4 separate regions of the Homo sapiens genome follow, and regions 2, 3 and 4 are each reported to be linked to region 1. Evidence: microRNA targets listed by miRTarBase, many of them from high-throughput screens and not tested one by one. Region 1 holds a microRNA gene; each other region holds the end of a gene's coding sequence.

The links. The annotated mature microRNA hsa-miR-103b reads UCAUAGCCCUGUACAAUGCUGCU and lies in region 1 at 2,498-2,520, shown strand. An mRNA with a match to its seed (bases 2 to 7 or 8) in the 3' UTR can be bound and repressed. Matches are read on the target gene's strand: a 7mer-m8 pairs with bases 2 to 8, a 7mer-A1 pairs with bases 2 to 7 and ends in A, and an 8mer does both.
Region 2: miRTarBase lists PLXDC2 as a target of hsa-miR-103b. The part of its 3' UTR that is shown has no 7-base or 8-base seed match.
Region 3: miRTarBase lists PPIL3 as a target of hsa-miR-103b. Seed matches in the 3' UTR shown: 7mer-m8 at 1,493-1,499.
Region 4: miRTarBase lists GLDN as a target of hsa-miR-103b. Seed matches in the 3' UTR shown: 7mer-A1 at 1,090-1,096, 7mer-A1 at 615-621 and 8mer at 465-472.

What each region holds. Positions count from the first base shown.
Region 1 is chr20:3,915,481-3,920,060 of GRCh38, reverse strand. It overlaps MIR103B2 (microRNA 103b-2), which reads left to right and starts at 2,498; the gene lies at 2,498-2,559. It overlaps PANK2 (pantothenate kinase 2), which reads right to left. Exons shown (of 7, transcript NM_001386393.1): 5 at 3,011-3,134; 6 at 1,265-1,390. MIR103A2 (microRNA 103a-2) reads right to left here and starts at 2,567; the gene lies at 2,490-2,567.
Region 2 is chr10:20,278,968-20,283,547 of GRCh38, forward strand. It overlaps PLXDC2 (plexin domain containing 2), which reads left to right. Exons shown (of 14, transcript NM_032812.9): 14 at 736-4,580. The coding sequence ends at 852. Among named protein-coding and RNA genes, the nearest start is that of MIR4675, 270 kb to the right of the region's middle.
Region 3 is chr2:200,867,873-200,872,452 of GRCh38, reverse strand. It overlaps PPIL3 (peptidylprolyl isomerase like 3), which reads left to right. Exons shown (of 7, transcript NM_130906.3): 7 at 932-1,546. The coding sequence ends at 1,058. Among named protein-coding and RNA genes, the nearest start is that of CLK1, 5.5 kb to the right of the region's middle.
Region 4 is chr15:51,403,690-51,408,269 of GRCh38, reverse strand. It overlaps GLDN (gliomedin), which reads right to left. Exons shown (of 10, transcript NM_181789.4): 10 at 270-3,993. The coding sequence ends at 3,516. Among named protein-coding and RNA genes, the nearest start is that of GLDN, 64 kb to the right of the region's middle.

The DNA.
Region 1 (4,580 bases):
ACATGAACTGTAAGAAACTTAATGGCAATTCGGTGCTGGTTTACAAATACAGTAATGTTAGAATTTTAAAACTAAGTTAGATGACTTCAATTTTAAGCTTTTTGATATGGGGATTTGTGTACTTTGGACTTCAACTATGAACTAAAGCAATTTAAAAAGAAAAACTTAAAGTAACTTTAAAGGAAAAAGTAATCTCTAGCACTTCAAATCTGTGCTATTATCTGGACTTTGATTTCCTTTAATTCATATAGACTGTTAAACTAAATATGCAATACAATTCTGAAAAATGTTCATAATAACAGTATCTAAAATCCAAGAACAGTTGAAAGAATAGTTCAACTGCCCCACAACCAAGAAGGGAAGAAAGAACCCCTACACGCCTTTCCATACCTCTGCTTCTTTTTCCCCAAATAGGAAAAATAAGAGTGCTTTCCAAGACAGGCTATGAGGTTGAGCAATTTGATTCTTTTCCATTTCATCATTTCCAGCCTGTCTACAATTGTACTTAAGTTCTTATGATAGTATGGTTCTAGTCTGAGAGGTTTACTCATCTATTCATTTTTACAACATGCATCTTAAATAACTGGCACAAGAATTACAACAATATATAAAAACTGGCACTGAAAAAAATGAAAAAACCAGAACCCAGAGTAATGACACAGTCAGTGCAATAGAAAAAATATAGAGGATAGTTCAGACAAAAATATGGCATCAGAAATATAGGGGAATGTTCAAGGGTTTTTCTCTAAAATTCCTTAAGCTTACAATTAAATTAACCCAAAATTTACCTTGCATTAGTATCAGGGAAGAAACAGCTTTCAAATGTTACGAAATTAAACTACCAAAAAAGTTCAGGCACAGTGGTTCACACCTGTAATCCTGGAACTTTGGGAGGCTGAGGCTGGCAGATCACTTAAGGTCAGGAGTTTGAGACCAGACCAGCTTGGCCAACATGGTGAAACCCCATTTCTACTGAAAGTACAAAAATTAGCAGGGTGTGGGGGCGCACACTTGTAATCCCAGCTACTTAAGAGACTGAGGTGGGAGGACTGCTTGAACCCAGGAGGCGGAGGCTGCAGTGAGCCCCAAGACTGTGCCACGCACTCCAACCTAGGTGACAGAGCGAGACTCCGTCTCAAAAAAACAAAAAACAAAAGAAACACTGCAGCCCATTTCACCTCCACCCTCTACCTCAAGTTCCATGACAGTGTGACCCACAAGCCCTCTGTGTACATAATATACCACAACGAACAAGTCAGCTTACCTCGTGTTCCGAAAAAAGTGCTTTCAACTGCCCCTTGGACCAATAATCCAAAGCATATGCCAAAAGCCGCATGGCGATCGTATTAATTCTCAAGAAATTTCCAACAAATACCACCTGGTTAATGTTCTGAGCACACCAAAAAAAGGCAATTAGTTTTCATCTTAATTTCTATTTTCTCATAAAAGCTACCCCAAATACAGCACCATGTGCATAGCTCTTAGCAACAATTTGACTGCTGATCAAATTTAGTCCAGTTGGTCCAGGGCTACTTAAACTTGATCCCCAGACAACTCTGGACCCACTGCAAAGCATGCTAGATAATGTCACAGGAGAAGAAAACAGATTAGGAAAAACATTTGTATTAAATCTGACCAACAATAACTAGTTTTGAATACAATGTTTTATACAGATAAGTTAAAATAAACAAAAAAAAACAGTATGACTCCAATCCAAAAGGACAGTGACACAAACAGGCAAAGTATACAAGCAATATAACAGGCAGCGAAAAATTCAAACCACTAGTCATCAAACAAAAGTAAAATTTTAGACCTATTAACCTCGCAAAAAAAAGCAACTGAAATTCCACCACCACCATCAGTAGTTGTAGTAAAATTAATCCACTCATTCACCGCTAAAGATGATCTAAATTGGTGCAGCCCTTGTGCAAAGCATCATGACGATAAATGTCAAAATTCATGAGCATGATCATTTCTGTAGACCAGAAATCTCACTCCTAAGCCCCATATCAAGAATAAAATTCAACCAAAGAATAACTTCATGCTTAAAAATGCTTACTGCCGAGTTATGAGCAAGCAACCAAATGCCAAGCTCTGTTATTTGATATAAAAGAACTTGATCAAATAAATATACAACCATGAAATGTATATTTAAGTATAAAATACAAATTGTGGTATGCACACCAACTAAAATTTCTGAAAATACGTAAGCACAGGAAAGGGAACATACAATAAAGAAAAAAGAAGTTATGATATTCCAACAAATGTTTAATTACTTGATGCTGATACAGTATTTTTTTAATTTAAAATGAGACAAATCCTTTGTGTCTTTTGAGGTTTCCTTTTAAGCTACATGCCTATTATTATCTAAAGAATAACTTCTTAAAAATAAAAATAAAAGAATAATTTAACAACTATACACACAGGGACAAGCCATAAGCTGCACCAACTGGATCCTAGATCCTCTTTTCCCAAGGGCAGCCCATTCTTGGTTCTTTCATAGCCCTGTACAATGCTGCTTGACCTGAATGCTACAAGGCAGCACTGTAAAGAAGCTGAAAGCACAAAGACGCAGCTCTGCTGAGGTGGGGGAGCCAAGGAGGGCACCCCTCGGCCTGCTCAGTCTTCTCCCAGCTTCCGTGACTTCCTCTGGATTCCTCCCTAGGGCCTCTAGAGCTCAGCAGTGAGTGTGGAGTCTACATTCAGCATCGTTATCCATCATCACCCCCAACAGTCCCCAATATCTGGAACACTGGCTACCTTCCACTCTTCCTCTACTTTCTCCTCAAAAGATGTCATTTTACCTCTAGACAAGTAGCAATGTTTATCTTCAGTTTAAAAAAAAAAAAAAGAAGATTAATCTGTATTTGAAGAGTTTTAACTTCGTGCTAAAACAAACCCCACCCCAAATGACTACATTTAGGCACTGTTCTGAGAAAACAGACGTGATGGGGCCCACTTAAGTTCAGTATTTTCCTTAGAGCAATTAAAGAAATCCATGTCCCCTTACTTCATTAAGGGCACACATTCTTGCTATTGAGCCAATGTTGTTGGTGATGGTGATCAAAGTCGCTCTGGCCAGGTCCTCTTTACTGACAGCCTCTCGCTTCTCCTTGCTCATCATGTTTCCAAAGCTGTGATGGGGGAAAAAAAATCCCATTGCTAAACCAACAGCAACAAAGCCCAACAGAACTTGAATGTTACTTTATTGAAATAAAATTAGCTTTTAGGGCAACATTGTTGAAATCTTCAAACCTTTTATTTTGCAATGGAGCATCTGTTCAAAGAGAAATGCAAACTTCAAACAGAGCCCTCCAACATTCTAAATGAGCAGACAGCTTTCCCTGCGGTTTCTACTGAAATCTAGCTTGGATACCAGATATTCACATATTCAGTTAGAATCTCATCAGATGCACTGGAAGGCACCATTGCTCCTGCAACCAGACAGTTCCAGGACAACACCTCTAACAGCAATTCATCTCAACTGCACAGCTGTTCCACTCAGATGGCCACATGCACATCTGGTAAACTGCTCTATCAGAGCAGAGTAAAGCACAGACAGCTGAGTCCCAGAGTGAGCTGCTTAAGAATTTCAGGTTTCCCTAGAAGATAAAGTACTTCAAAGTACATGCTCAGCAGAACTGCTACAATAATTTTCCAATCAGAAAAGGAAGTGATGACCAACGAGCAAATGTTACAAACAGAAAATCAACAGCATTGACCAAGTGCCTAAAACTTAGTAAACAAGCATGTATACATATGATTTTTCTATTAGTAAAAGCCATGTGCCCCAATATACGAAAAACAATTGTACTTCTAAACGATCTCAAAATGGAGACAATGATTTCATTTATAATAGCATTAGAGAATAAAACACTTACGGATATATCTAACAAAAGTATTAACACCTGTACAATAAAATCTACAAAACACTGCTGAAAGAAAGCAAAGATCTAAATCAATGGGAAGACATTCCATCTTTTTGGATCAGAAGACTTTGTATTAGGATGGCCAAAAGATTCAATGTAATCTCTATTAAAATCCCAGTTGTCTTATTTACAGACCTTGCCAAGTTAACCCTACAATTCATATTCTCAAGGTACCCAGAATAGCCAAAATAATCTCGAAAAAAGAACAAGTTGGATGACTCACACTTTCTTACTTCAGAACTTAATACAACGCTACAGTATCAAGGCAGTATGGTACTGGTATAAAAACAGACATATATATCAATGGAACATAACTTAAGAGTCCAGGAGTAAACCCAAACATCTATGGTCAACTAATTTTTGACAAAGGGGCCAAGAGAATTTAACAGGGAAAGAATCATCTTTTCAACAAATGGTACTAGGACAACTGGATATCCACACGCAAAAAGAAATGAACTTGGAGCTCTACCTCACACCATACACAAAAACTTACTCAAAATGGATCAAATATAAGAGCTAAATATAAGAGCTAAAACTGGCGGGCGTGGTGGCTCACGCCTGTAATCCCAGCACTTTGGGAGGCCAAGGTGGGCGGATCACGAGGTCAAGAGATCGAGACCATCCTGGACAATATGGTGAAACCCTGTCTCT
Region 2 (4,580 bases), not on the chromosome of region 1:
GGATGGAGTGCTGAGAAGAAATGCTCTCTTTTTGTCAATACAAATAACCTGTATTTTAGGACTAGTGTCTATTGTACAATATTTGTTTCATAAGCTCACGATTGGCCACACCCTCTGATAATAGATTCCATTTTTAGGATATAACAGCTTTAATTTTCAAGCACAAAGAAATCATAGATGGGTATGCTTAACTAAATAAATAATTTCTTAAGATATTAAGTGATATTTCTTTTAGCTTATTTGCTAGGAAGTCTGGTGCCTAATTGAAAATACCCTTCTAGGAACAGCAGAATTTTTTGACCTTAGTTTTTGAGTGAATTAATGAACAAAATGAAGTGATATCAGTATTGACTTGTAGAGAAGAGAGAGTGTCTGTGCCCATATATTAAAAAATATTTTCTATTACAGTTCCTTTTTGCCTAGTTATATTTGAGCATTTCAGACATATGCATAAGGCATTAAACCTTGCTTGGGAGAAGCTCTGAATCCTTTGAGGGCAGGTGTGACAAATGGTCTTTCCTGTGACAGGGGTAGATAGCGCCATCTTGGAAATGCAAGCACAGGGCTTGGAGGGTTGATAAGGGGAATTCTTAATTCTGACTGTAGCTATAATAAGAGATAATTTAATGTGTTAATTAATTCAACATTTAATCTAAAATAGCTAGCAAATAGATTTTTCTGGTGCTAGAATCTTACCCTGACGCACATTTTTTATTTTTGTGTTTTCTGTTTCAGAGACGCCCAAGCAGATGGCCTGCGATGAAGTTTAGAAGAGGCTCTGGACATCCTGCCTATGCTGAAGTTGAACCAGTTGGAGAGAAAGAAGGCTTTATTGTATCAGAGCAGTGCTAAAATTTCTAGGACAGAACAACACCAGTACTGGTTTACAGGTGTTAAGACTAAAATTTTGCCTATACCTTTAAGACAAACAAACAAACACACACACAAACAAGCTCTAAGCTGCTGTAGCCTGAAGAAGACAAGATTTCTGGACAAGCTCAGCCCAGGAAACAAAGGGTAAACAAAAAACTAAAACTTATACAAGATACCATTTACACTGAACATAGAATTCCCTAGTGGAATGTCATCTATAGTTCACTCGGAACATCTCCCGTGGACTTATCTGAAGTATGACAAGATTATAATGCTTTTGGCTTAGGTGCAGGGTTGCAAAGGGATCAGAAAAAAAAAATCATAATAAAGCTTTAGTTCATGAGGGATCGACACCTTTGGTTCAAATGTTCTCTGATGTCTCAAAGATAACTGTTTTCCAAAGCCTGAACCCTTTCACTCAAAAGAGCAATGATGAATGTCTCAAGATTGCTAAGAAAAACAGCCCATGCAAGAGTGAGAACAAACACAAAATAAGAGATTTTCTACATTTTCAAAACAGATGTGTGGCAAAAGGATGTTGTTTTTCTGGTCTAGATCCATCTGTACCAACAAGTTCATCACTTTACAGAACGAATCTTTTTATCCGTACAGGAGGTTCAAACCATGTCTGCCTCTTCCTTTGTAATGAATGACCTTTCTATGAGCTGTGACAAAATTTCCGAACAATTAACTAAGGATTTGGGAAGAGGGGGTGGCAAACGGGGCTTTCTGTTTTCCTGCCTCAGCATGAAAACATCTGATTTATGCTTTATGGAAGCCTTACCTCCAATCCCCAACTGTTAAGTCCCATGAAACCACAGTTGCTCTGGGCTGATGGAAACAAAAGGAAACAGTATGAAGAGTTCCTTAATCATTTTTGAAACAAAAATGTTAAGGGATTTTAAACATATGATTATTTTTAATTTTATGCCTTTTCAGTACTAAACACCCATTTCATTGCTGATTCCTGTCTAAGAAGCCATTCACGTCAGCATGGCGATAGAAAGAATGAAAAAACCCTGCTGAATCATACAGTAATTTTCTTTAAAGCACATAGTAGTTACATAAATATATATATATAAATATATTTTTGTTTATAACTAACACAAGGCAGGATCTTGTGACTCTAAGAGTGCGTTTTGTCATCAAGGCAAAACAGATGCAAGATGCATCACTGCATTACTTCCATAGAGTTGTAAAATAATCCTTAATATTAGAATATTTTTCTGTCACTTAGCAAAAGTGGTTCAGTTCATTGCCGCGCCCATCATGTTCTTGACTATTTGATCCACTTTTTCGTTTATGTCAACCCCTTCCCTCTCTGGCTAAATAAAGTGGATGCAGAAAGCTCCTTAAATGGAGATATCGATTGCCTTGGAATCACAATCCTGATTTTGAAAATTCCTCATGAATGAAGAAAGGAATGGCATCCCTTGAGAAGGAAAGTGGTTAATATACATACTGAGCTCCTAAAGTTTAAATTCAGGTACTGAGTGTACAATTTCACCAACATTCTAACCCATGAAACTTTTACACTCTGTGCCAAGAAACTGTTGGCTTTTGTAAGGTACAGTGCTCAACATTTGCAGATTCAGGTCTCAAGAAGCAGAGATGTCTCATAAGCAGCATTTTCCCAACAGTTTAGCATCTGTACACATCTGCCTTGGTCATCAGTCCACTCACAGAGTACCATACTTTATCATCACAAGTGTCTGACGTGAACGAATGCCATTTTCTATTCCATATATTTTGCTTTACAATTTTAAGTATTTGATGAAGATGGTAACTTTTTCCTAACTTAGTTAACTATTAAAAAAAATTTTGAAAAGCAAGGTGATTGAAGGATTGTGATGACAATCTCTTTGCAGCAGCTATGTATGGTTTATGTGAAGTATCCCCACTTATTCTTGTGGAGCAGGTTTGGTGAGACAGCAATAACCAAATGACATGCCAATATTACTGGTGCAACTGGTATTCTACAAATGCATAAGGAACACATAGACGACTTCCTTTTAGGATAAAATGATGCTTCTTTCACTACCTTTTGTGGTAGCTGTGGCTTCCAATAGCAACTGTTTGACAGTTATATAAATCTTGCATGTGTATTCTTAGTTTGTGTCCCTTAAGTACTACTTAATTCTCAAGTAGTAATGTTATTCTTATACCCTTCAGCGTTCTATTTTGATTCAAAACAATTGATTCAAAACAATTTTGAATCAATTTTCTATTTTGATTCAAAACAATTGATAATTCTGTAAAAAAACATAAACACTGAATTCTTCAGTGAACCAAAGCAACAAATAATAGAGAAAACTTCTTGAAACTGGAGTGTGGGAAAACTTCTTAACAGAACTAAGAGTTAAAGGTAGTGAGAAGTGTGTGGTGTGTGAATTCTTTAGTGGTAAGGGGAAATGTGGGCTAAATCCTTTTCTTTCATGAAACTCTCATTCTATTTTATATTTCTGGTTTGTTCTTGTTCCCATGTGAGAAAACATACAGTTTCTGAAAATTCAAAATGGTCATCAATGCTTTGGACTTTACATAATTATGTATTAGAGAAGGTGCAACTGTACATTACTTAATATACTATGAACATAATAGAATAACAAAAAAAGATAACAAAGAGATGCAAACTTCTGGATAAATCAGATAAATGGTGCTACAGAGGAATTTAGTTATTTCAGCTTAATTATTTGTAAAAATAATAATCAGTGACTAGGTAAAGATACTGAAACTCAAGAAAAATATCTTGACCCATTTATGTCTAGTGTTCCATTATTGGAACGCTAAGCTTATGGGAGTTATTTAGAGCCTACTGCTCAAGGTCATCACCAAGGTCTGGTTGCAAAAATTCAAAAAATTGCAACCTCAGGCATAAATGGCTTAAGCCCAAGAGATGGCACTGACCATAAATGGTGGCTTGTGTGTGAAGGGTTTGGACTTCAAGATATACTAACACCTAGAAAACTAAAAGTGCAATTGACCCCCAATTACTATTTTAGTTTGAGGTATCAAGGGCATTTGCCAATCTCTTATATGTAGCTTCTAGAGTTGTGCTGTCCAATATTATATCCACTAGCCAACGTGGCTTTTGAAATTAAAATTAATTAAAATTAAATTAAAAATGTAATTCTTCAGTCACACCAGCCACATTTCAAAGGCTCAATAGCCACGCCTGGCTTGTGGCTACCATATTGGATAACAAGAAACACTTCCGTGGTTGAAGAAAATTTTAATGGACAATGCTGTGTTTCATTTGAATTCGTTGTCCTTGAAGAAAAGGGAAGAAGAGGAAAGAAACAAGATTTGGTAGCTCTTGGGCATATCCAAGCATTTTTGATTTTAGAGAGGCCCTATGGAGTAATGAAAAAAATACAAGCTGACACAGCTTTAAATCCCCACTGTGTTATCTTGGGAAAATCACTTCAACCTCCTTGAGTCTCAATTTGCAATTTTGGAAAAGAAAAACAATTTTTGTCCTGTCTTTCTTGCAAGATTATTATGCAACCTGATTAAATGTACAGATGTGCAGACTCTTAAAAACCTTATGTTAATGTAACCCATATAAAGTACGACTTTTGGTCGAGTACCAGCACAAATTTGCATTCAAAGGAAGAATAGTTCATCAGTGCAAAAAGCGTTCAAAGGTAATCAGTTCATCACGTATCTTGAGAAAAAGAGAATGCATTCAAAACACAAAGCAAAAT
Region 3 (4,580 bases), not on the chromosome of region 1:
GTCACTAGTGGCCAGTGATTTAATTAATCGTGCCTACCTAATGTGCCCTCCGTAAAAACCCTAAACAGGGTTTGAGAGCTTCCAGGTTGGTGAACACAAGTAGATACTAAGAGGGTAACACACCCCGAGAAGAGCATGGAAGCGCTGTGCCCCTCTCTCAGACTTTGCCCTATGCATCTCCTCCATTTGGTTGTTCCTGAGTTGTAACCTTTATAATAGCCCATAGTAATAAATAAAGTGCTTTCCTAAGTTCTATGAGCCATTTTTGAAAATTATTGAACAGAGCTGGGGGGCATGAAAAATCCCAAATTATATCATGGTTAGTCAGATAGTACAGATCACAATCGGGACTTGGAACTGGCATCCGAAGTGGTAGGGGCTGTCTTGTGGGATTAACCGGGGTCTCTGTTCACTCCTTGTAGTTAGTGTCACAATTAAATTATAGGGCCAGGTGTGGGGGCATGCATTTGTAGTCCCAGTGAGATCCTGTCTTTAAAAAATTAAATAAAATTTTGAAAAAATAATCAAGTTGTGGGATACCCAGAGAATTGGAGAACTGGGAAAACCCACACATTTGGTGTTGGAAGTATGAAAGTGTAGAAAAACAGTTTGTTTTCCCTTTAACTGGTTATATTAGTCCCATTTGTAGCTGTTCTCTGTCACTGTATGAATGGGGTAGAATATAATTTTAGGTACTATGGTGGAAATATTCCTACCCTTTGTATTGTTGACTAAGGGCATAAAAGTAAATTATTTCTGAATTTTGATCCATATCTATGATGGAAAATCAACATTTTGTTGTACATTCAACTAGAGAACTCAGAGATCTGTAAGACTTGATTATTTTTTAAGGAGACTGTAATTGTCATAGATATGGATATCATGTTTCAATTTAAGGAAATTTTCATATGTTATGTTGTTTCTCTTTCAGGGTAATAGATGGTCTGGAAACTCTAGATGAGTTGGAGAAGTTGCCAGTAAATGAGAAGACATACCGACCTCTTAATGATGTACACATTAAGGACATAACTATTCATGCCAACCCATTTGCTCAGTAGCTATGATAGACCTGGACAAATAACTTGACAAATTGCTGGAACACACTTATTGTGGTTTACCCGGTTTTAATTATGTCAGAGATTGCATCATCCTTCTGCTTGTTTACAACTATGATCTTCTATGAAATGGTGGTACCAAGGGGCGCCCAACAGCTTTTATCCCCATTCTTAGAGCATATTCTTTATTATAATGATTATCCAACATATTTCTTTAATTTTAATACAAAAAATACATCATTTAATTTTTGTTACATATGAACATTCATTTTTAAATGCTCAGCCTCAAGTGCAGGCATTTTTGAGTGGCCTGATTACATATTCCTCCCACAGCAAGTCCGTATCCTGGAAGTGTTATTTTATAATAAAATTTAAAAAGTTTTAAAGAATTAAATCGTAGGACAAATTAATTAAAATATTGTGTAAAATTACCTTCAGGCTATGTGTATAAGGTATATATGAAACGTAAATGAACTTCATGTTTAAATTTGGGTCTCATCTCCAAGATATCTTATTATGTATATGCAAGTATCCCCAAATCTGAAAATTTGGGTATTCCTGAAACTGATACTAACGGTAAGAGCTCTACCATTAATTATTCACTTTATACAGTTAGAAAGAGGAGGGACAGGATAAAAAGTTAGTCTGGAAAGGCCAGCCAATCCATTTGCTATTTTCTCTGATTTTTTTTTTTTTCTTTTTGAGACGGAGTCTTGCTCTTTTACCCGGGCTGGAGTGCAGCGGGTCACTGCAACCCCTGCCTCCCAGGTTCAAGTGATTCTCCTGCCTCAGCCTCCCAAGTAGCTGGGACTACAGGTGCACACCACCATGCCCAGCTACTTTTTGTATTTTTTTTTTCAGTAGAGACGGGGTTTACAGAGACCATGTTGGCCAGGATGGTCTTGATCTTTTGACCTCATGATCTGCCCACCTCGGCCTCCCAAAGTGCTGGGATTACAGGTGTGATCTTTAGGTTTACAGTAAAGGCTCTCAGAGGTCCTGGAGGCCGAGTGTGGTGGCTGACGCCTATAATCCCAGCACTTTGGGAGGCCAAGATGGGCAGATCACGAGATCAGGAGATCAAGACCATCCTGGCTAACATGGTGAAACCCTGTCTCTACTAAAAATATAAAAAATTAGCTGGGCATGGTGGCGGGTGCCTGTAGTCCCAGCTACTTGGGAGGCTGAGGCAGGAGAATCACTTGAACCCGGGAGGCAGAGGTTGTAGTGAGCCAAGATCGAGCCATTGCACTCCAGCCTGGGTGACAGTGGGAGACTCCATCTCAAAAAAAAAAAAAAAAAAAAGATGTCTTGGAATACAGTAAACACTCAACATTTCCCAACTGATTTGCTCATGGACTTTTTTTTTTTTTTTTGAGACATAGTCTCACTCTTGTCACTCAGGCTGGAGTGCAATGGCACAATCTCGTCTCACTGCAACCTCCGCCTCCCGGGCTCAAGTGATTCTCCTGCCTCAGCCTCCCGAGTAGCTGGGATTACAGGCATCTGCCACCATGCCTAGCTATTGTTTTTTTGTGTTTTTAGTAGAGACAGGGTTTCACCATGTTGGCCAGGCTGGTCGTGAGCTCCTGACCTCAGGTGATCCGTCCACCTTGGCCGCCCAAAGTGCTGGGATTACAGGCGTGAGCCACCACACCCGGCCTGCTCATGGACATTTTTTAAGGCATATCTTTTTTTTTTTTAATTTTAGATTCAGCAGGTACATGTGCAGGTTTGTTACAAGTGTATAATGCATGGTGCTGAGGTTTGGGCTTCTACTGATCCTGTCACCCAGACAGTGAACATAGTGCCCAAAAGGAAGCTTTTCAGCCCTTGCCCCTGCCCCTTCCTCCTTTTTTGGAGTCCCCAGTGTCCACTGTTCCCATCTTTTTGTCCATGTGAATCCAAGATTTAGCTCCCATTTATTGTAACTGAATGCAGGCTGGGCTGCACGCCACTTGCAAAGTCAACAACAAGGAGGAGATGCAGGAAAAGGAAAGTGACTTTATTCCAGAGCTAGCAGTGGGGAAATGGCCAAAGCTAGTACCTTAAAGAAATCATTTTGAACTTTAGGCTGGGGAGAGGTGCTTAAAAAGGGAACTTAGAATGGGAGGCATGCGGGAGTGGTGCAGGGTTTCAGATCTCTGTGGCTTGCTGTAGTGGCTATCTTGAGTTGTGGTCCACCTGGAGTGGGGGCTGGCATCATCTCAACAATGGCTGGGTTGTTGACTAACCACCTTAAGGTAATCTCTGGAATTTTGCAGCTGGGTCTCCAAGCCTGGTATATGTCATGATTAGCCCTTGATGGGCCAGGCACAGTGGCTCACACCTATAATCGCAGCACTTTGGGGAGGCCAAGGTGGGAGGATCACCTGAGCCCAGGAGTTTTAGATCGGCCTGGGCAACGTAGTGAGACCTTGAATCTACTAAAAATTGAAAAAAAAAAAAAAAAAAAAAAAAAGCCGGATGTGGTAGCCCCAGCTACTTAAAAGGCTGAGGTGGGAGGATTGCTTGAGCTAGGGAAGTAGAGACTGCAGTGATCCATGGTCGTGCCACTGGACTCCAGCCTGGGCAAGAGAGTTAAGACCCTATAGATAAGAGTGTATAGTGTAAGTTTAACAAGTGTACAGTTAGATAAATGTGCATAGTATAAGGGAGTGTGAGGCGGGAAAGGGAGGGAAACGGTTTTAACAAGACTACATTCTGAAATTAAGAAAGAAAGGGCCAGGCACGGTGGCTCACGCCTGTAATCCCAGCACTTTGGGAGGCTGAGGCAGGCGGATCATGAGGTCAAGAGATCGAGACCATCCTGGCCAACATGGTGAAACCCCGTCTCTACTAAAAATACAAAAATTAGCTGGCCGTGGTGGCACGCGCCTGTAGTCCCAGCTACTTGAGAGGCTGAGGCAGGAGAATTGCTTGAACCTGGGAGGCAGAGGTCGCAGTGAGCCGAGATTGCACCACTGCACTCCAGCGTGGAAACAGAGACTTCTGTCTCAAAAAAAAAAGGAAAAAAAAAACTTTAAAATGCATTTCAAGGCTAGGATACTTGGTTATATTACAAGTGAGAACATAAGGCATATCTCTGAAAATATTGAAGAGTGGAGCTTTACAGAATATCCATTTGAAAAATGCAATGAACTAGTTAAAGGCACCAGTTTGTGGAGTTCTGGTCTGTGTTTGAATCACAGCTGTGTCCCTTACAGTGTAACTTTAAGCAAGTTAACATCTTCAAGCTTTAGTATTCTCATCCATAAATAATACCTCAGAAGACAATTGTGAGGGTTAAATGTGTGTAAAGCTTCTGGCATGTAGTAAGTAAGTAGAAGCTGCTGTCCTAACATTCATGTCCACCACAGGGCTCTCACCTCATCAAGCCATTCATTGGGTTCTACCACTGATTTCATCAAGACCATATTCTGCCCACTGCCTAGATCACAGTGGTTGGATTTGGGTGTTCCTAAAACTTATACCAGCCGAGCGTAGTGGCTCATGCCTGTAATTCCAGCCCTTTGGGAGGCCAAG
Region 4 (4,580 bases), not on the chromosome of region 1:
GATGAATTGGCAAAGCTTGATTGCATTTATGTCTACGTATAACCCAGTTCTAGTACTAGATTTCCATCGCTCATGTTTTCTTATAGAGAAGAGACAGTCCATATCAACAATTTTTCAGTACTGTATTCAGAAGGAGCTAGCAAATTGAGTTTCCACAGAGGAGCAACTAATATAATTCTACCACAATATTGTTTTGGATTTTTTCTTTTAAATGTTACGTATACATTAACAAGAGGTAAAAATAACAACACACTTGTTTCAACATGTGATTGTGCTCAGCAATGATTATTTTATTTGACTTGTTAAATTACAACCAAAAAGACATTCATCGTTATTCATTTGTTGTTCAGGATCTGTGCAGGTTGGAAATTATGGCTCTTAATGCTGTGAAACACAGGGCCACAGCATCTGGATGAAAACGCAAAGCCCTATCACTCATTTCTCCTTCACTTGCCATCAGATGATCATAGCCAAAACGTCCTCTGTGTGGTTGGAAGATGACACCTCACTCATCAAGAATTGTACTGTTTCATTTGACTTTTCACCTTGTGACTGTTAAGATGCCTAAGATCAGAACTCCTCATCTTAAAACTTCCACCCCAGAACTTTTTCTGTCATAGCACCTGTGCTTAACGATACTTGGAGACCAGAACCACCTACTTGGCTTCAGGAGGACACCTTATCAGCTGAAAGAAAATGCCTTGAAATAGAGTGTGGCCTAGCTTTGAGGTTGGGAGGGATGGTTTTGTTTACTTTCCAGTGGGAAGCTATCTACTTTAGATTAAAGAAGAATTAGAGAATTATCTGGTTTGATTCTGACATCAGAAGTGCAGATATTTGGAAAGTGTTTTAGAGCAACTTTGGTTATAAATGAGAGGGTAAACTCCTAAAACAGTATCTTGACTTAAAAACATTCAGTTGTATACTCTATTTTAGCAGTGAGCCCAAAACTTCTTTAAAAAATCAAGTAATGTTTACAAGAAAGAATAAAATCTTAATCCTTTTCACTTTTAAAGACAATCAGATAAGATTACCCACTGCGATTAAACACTGATCAAACTCAGTTGTCCTTACGTTAGCATTACTCTGTCATAGCAAAAAAAAAAGAAAAAAGAAAAAAAGTCCCGGTGTAAGCTTCTCCAGTGGTGAGCATGATCCCTTACTCACAAGTAAGGGAGCCCAGATAGCTCAGATATCAAGACTGAGGTTTCTGAAACATTTTTCTAAAAGGAATATGTGCTAATTAACAACCTCTTTTGGTTGCTACCTTATATACAATTAGTATTGTATGTACTATTATTATGAAACTATATTCCTAACCTGGTCTCCTGTATTCAGCAACAGCAACATATATATTTAAATACTTTAAAAGGACACCAGCACTTATTAGACATATTGATCTTGAACATGAGACTCTTTGTTAGAGAACGTGAATCTGAAAAGAGTATTTTTAAAAGCTAAGGTGACATGGTACAACCAATCTAATGAAAAGTAGGTGAAGTTTCAAATAGCCATCATATTGAGAACACAACAAACAAGTCATTGACAGCTGCCTGGGGACTTTCAGGGGAGCAGGGAGATTTGAATATTTAAATCTGTATATCCCCTAAGTTTTATTTTCTTATATTTTATTTTTTAGAGATGGGATCTCTCTAGGCTGGTCCTGAGATCCTGGCCTCAAGTGATCCTCCCATCCCTGCCTCCAAAGTAGCTGGGATTGCAGTTATGTGCCACCATGCCCAGTTCAACCCTAAGTTTTAAAATACTGCTGTTAATAATATATTGAACTCAGGGCCATTGAGAATGAATTTGGTCCCAAAGAGAAAGTTTCAGAATACACACAAATTGGGACAAGTTGCTGAAAAATCTTTACATAAGATTTGCCCTGGTTCCCCTTCCTGGCTGCAGAGCCCCAGGAACTTTTCCAGCTTCCTCTCTATTCGCAGTGGCCCTTCCCGGGGCCGCAGCGCTGGGCTGAAAGATGTTTAAAGAAGTGAGTTGGCAGAAAATATGCATATTTAAGAGCATTTAGGAGCAAGTTCAACTGGATTCTCTCCTGGCATCCAAGGGGACCAGATCACATCCTTTAAAACTATGTTAGAGAAAGAACTGTCCCCTAACCAGCCTTTGTGGAGGGCCACTTCATCTTACGCCGTTATCAGCCTTCCCCTCTACTCAAAACGCAAGTCACATCCTATGCGGCTTCTTAGTTTAGAACAAAACAAAACAGGCTCTGGTTCTGATTTTTTCAAGAATCAGGCTCACTTTATATTCTTTATCAGGAGTCAGCAATCTTTTTCCATAAAGGGGTAGCTGGTCAATATTTTAGGCACTGTGGGGCCATATGCTCTTTGTTGCAATGACTCGACTCTGCTGTTGCAGAGCAAAAGCAATGTCAGGCCGTACTGCATAAACAAATGAGTGTGGCTGTGCTCAGTAAAACCTTATTTAAAAAAACAGGCAATGGACTGGCTCTGGCCCAGTTCTACATAATAGCCACAAATGGAGCCTCTCTTCTGAACACTGCAAAGTGCTTCCCATGGTTCCAGCCAGATTAACGTCTACTTACACAGCATTTAGTACTTTGATAGTGGATCCACAGGAGAAGCATAAGAAGTCAGAGTGATCTGAGGATTCAGTGTTCATGATCCACAGCTACAAATCAACATGATCAGAAACTGGGGGGAACCTGGAAGATCATGATTCTGTTTTATTAAGAAACCTGGGCCAGGCACACATGCCTGTAATCCAGCATTTTGGGAGGCCAAGGCAGGAGGATCACTTGAGCCCCAGGAGTTCAAGACCAGCCTGGGAAACATAGCAAGACTCTCTCTCTATTTAAAATAAGAAAAGAAAAAAAATAGCTTATTGAAAAAAAAAAAAAAAAAAAAACCTGAACATGTAGCTGTCCCTGGCTTTTGCTAATCTCAGAGCTGCCCAATCAGCAGCTGAGGGTAATGGTTATTCTGTGGTGGCAGGTGCAGATGCAAAGAAAAGCAATAAATTATGGATAATGTGATACTTTAGATGTCTTAAAGAGTCAATGCATTTTTTCAAAGAACAAGATATAAGTCAGCACTGAGGGATTCACTACTCAAGCCACTGGACTTATCAACTCAAAGGTAAATTTGGTCAGCATGTGGCTAAAAAAGCTAAACGACAGAAGCAGATACATAAAAGTTGTGAGAAGAGCAGCCACCAAGAATCACCAAATTACCTACAGGTACAGAAAATCTCCCCAATCATCTTAGCCAATTCAGATTACCAATGGGGAAACTAAGGCCCAAGGAGAAAGAGGTAACTTGCAGAGCCAGCTGTGGGGAGATCACCAAATCTCAGCCATTTCAACTTCCAATCTGTTGCTATTTCACTAAGCGGGGCTCACTGACCATATAAACACTTTTGAGGTTATTTTCTAAATATCTGGCTGACGTTAAAAAAACAAGTTTCCTGTTGGGGGAGAACTGGTCCCAGAAAACCCCTGAAATTTGCTGAAGGGAGCCGAATGCAGCACATCACTGATTTAAGGTAGTTGACAAAAACTGCACAGGATAAAGCATTAAATGGCCATCTTCCCATGAATATAAATGCTGATCTCTCATGTTGTATGCTAACATGGCAAGAACAGACTGGGAAGTTCTTAAATCAAAGTTTGCATTGATCTGTTTCCCTCCTAACAAATCAAAGGCAAATGTGACCCTCATATCTTTGGTGTCTGTGACATAGAGGATTCCTCGGGCAATGAAGGCGTTGCCAGCCTTGGATTTAGGGTACGTGGTATTGACGTGTTGCACCACTGAGAATGTCCTCTCATCCAGTTGTGCTACAAGAATGCTCGAGCCGTCCACACTTGACGCATAGATAATCCAAAGGCCCTTTTCATCTACAGCTAGATTGAAGTAAGTTTTGGAATTTGCAAAAAGGTATTTTCGATCAAAATACAAGGCATTTTCAAGCTTCAGAGTTTGGGATGTTTCCTGGCCAAATTCAAATCTGAAATATGCAAACAAAGAAAAGTAGACATGAATCACCGTTTCTGTGGACAGGTGGTTTATTAGGCTCCTCTATTAAACTGAGTTAGTGGGTCTGGGGTGAGGGCTGGGATTTTGCATTCCTTACAAGCTCCCAGGTAATGCCTGCTCTGCTGGTCCTTGGGCAATGCTGTGAGCAGTGAGGCTGTAAGAGACAATGACTGGCTGTGCTAGCAGAGGCAACAGGGAGACAGTGGTGTGGTGTCAGAATAATCACCAAAGTCAGAATGAATTTGCATCTGAGTGACCACTTACTAGCCATGTGACCCCCACTTCACTAATGCCCAGATGTTTGTTGACCTCCTGAAATGCCCCCTCAAAGATTCTTAGAGCTGCAAGGGGGCTGTAAAAGAGGATCTAGTCCAATCTTTTCATTTTATAAGCAAAAAATGAGAAGCAACTGGCCCATGAAGACAAGTAAGAGGCAGAGCCAGAGGTTGAACTTAGGGTTTCTAACTCTAAGTGTGGGGGTTATTCCTTTACTCCCTGCTGAAATTTTAAAAAAAGAGTTTCACAGCCTGCTAAGTTAAGAAGAAAGTCAGCAGGTGA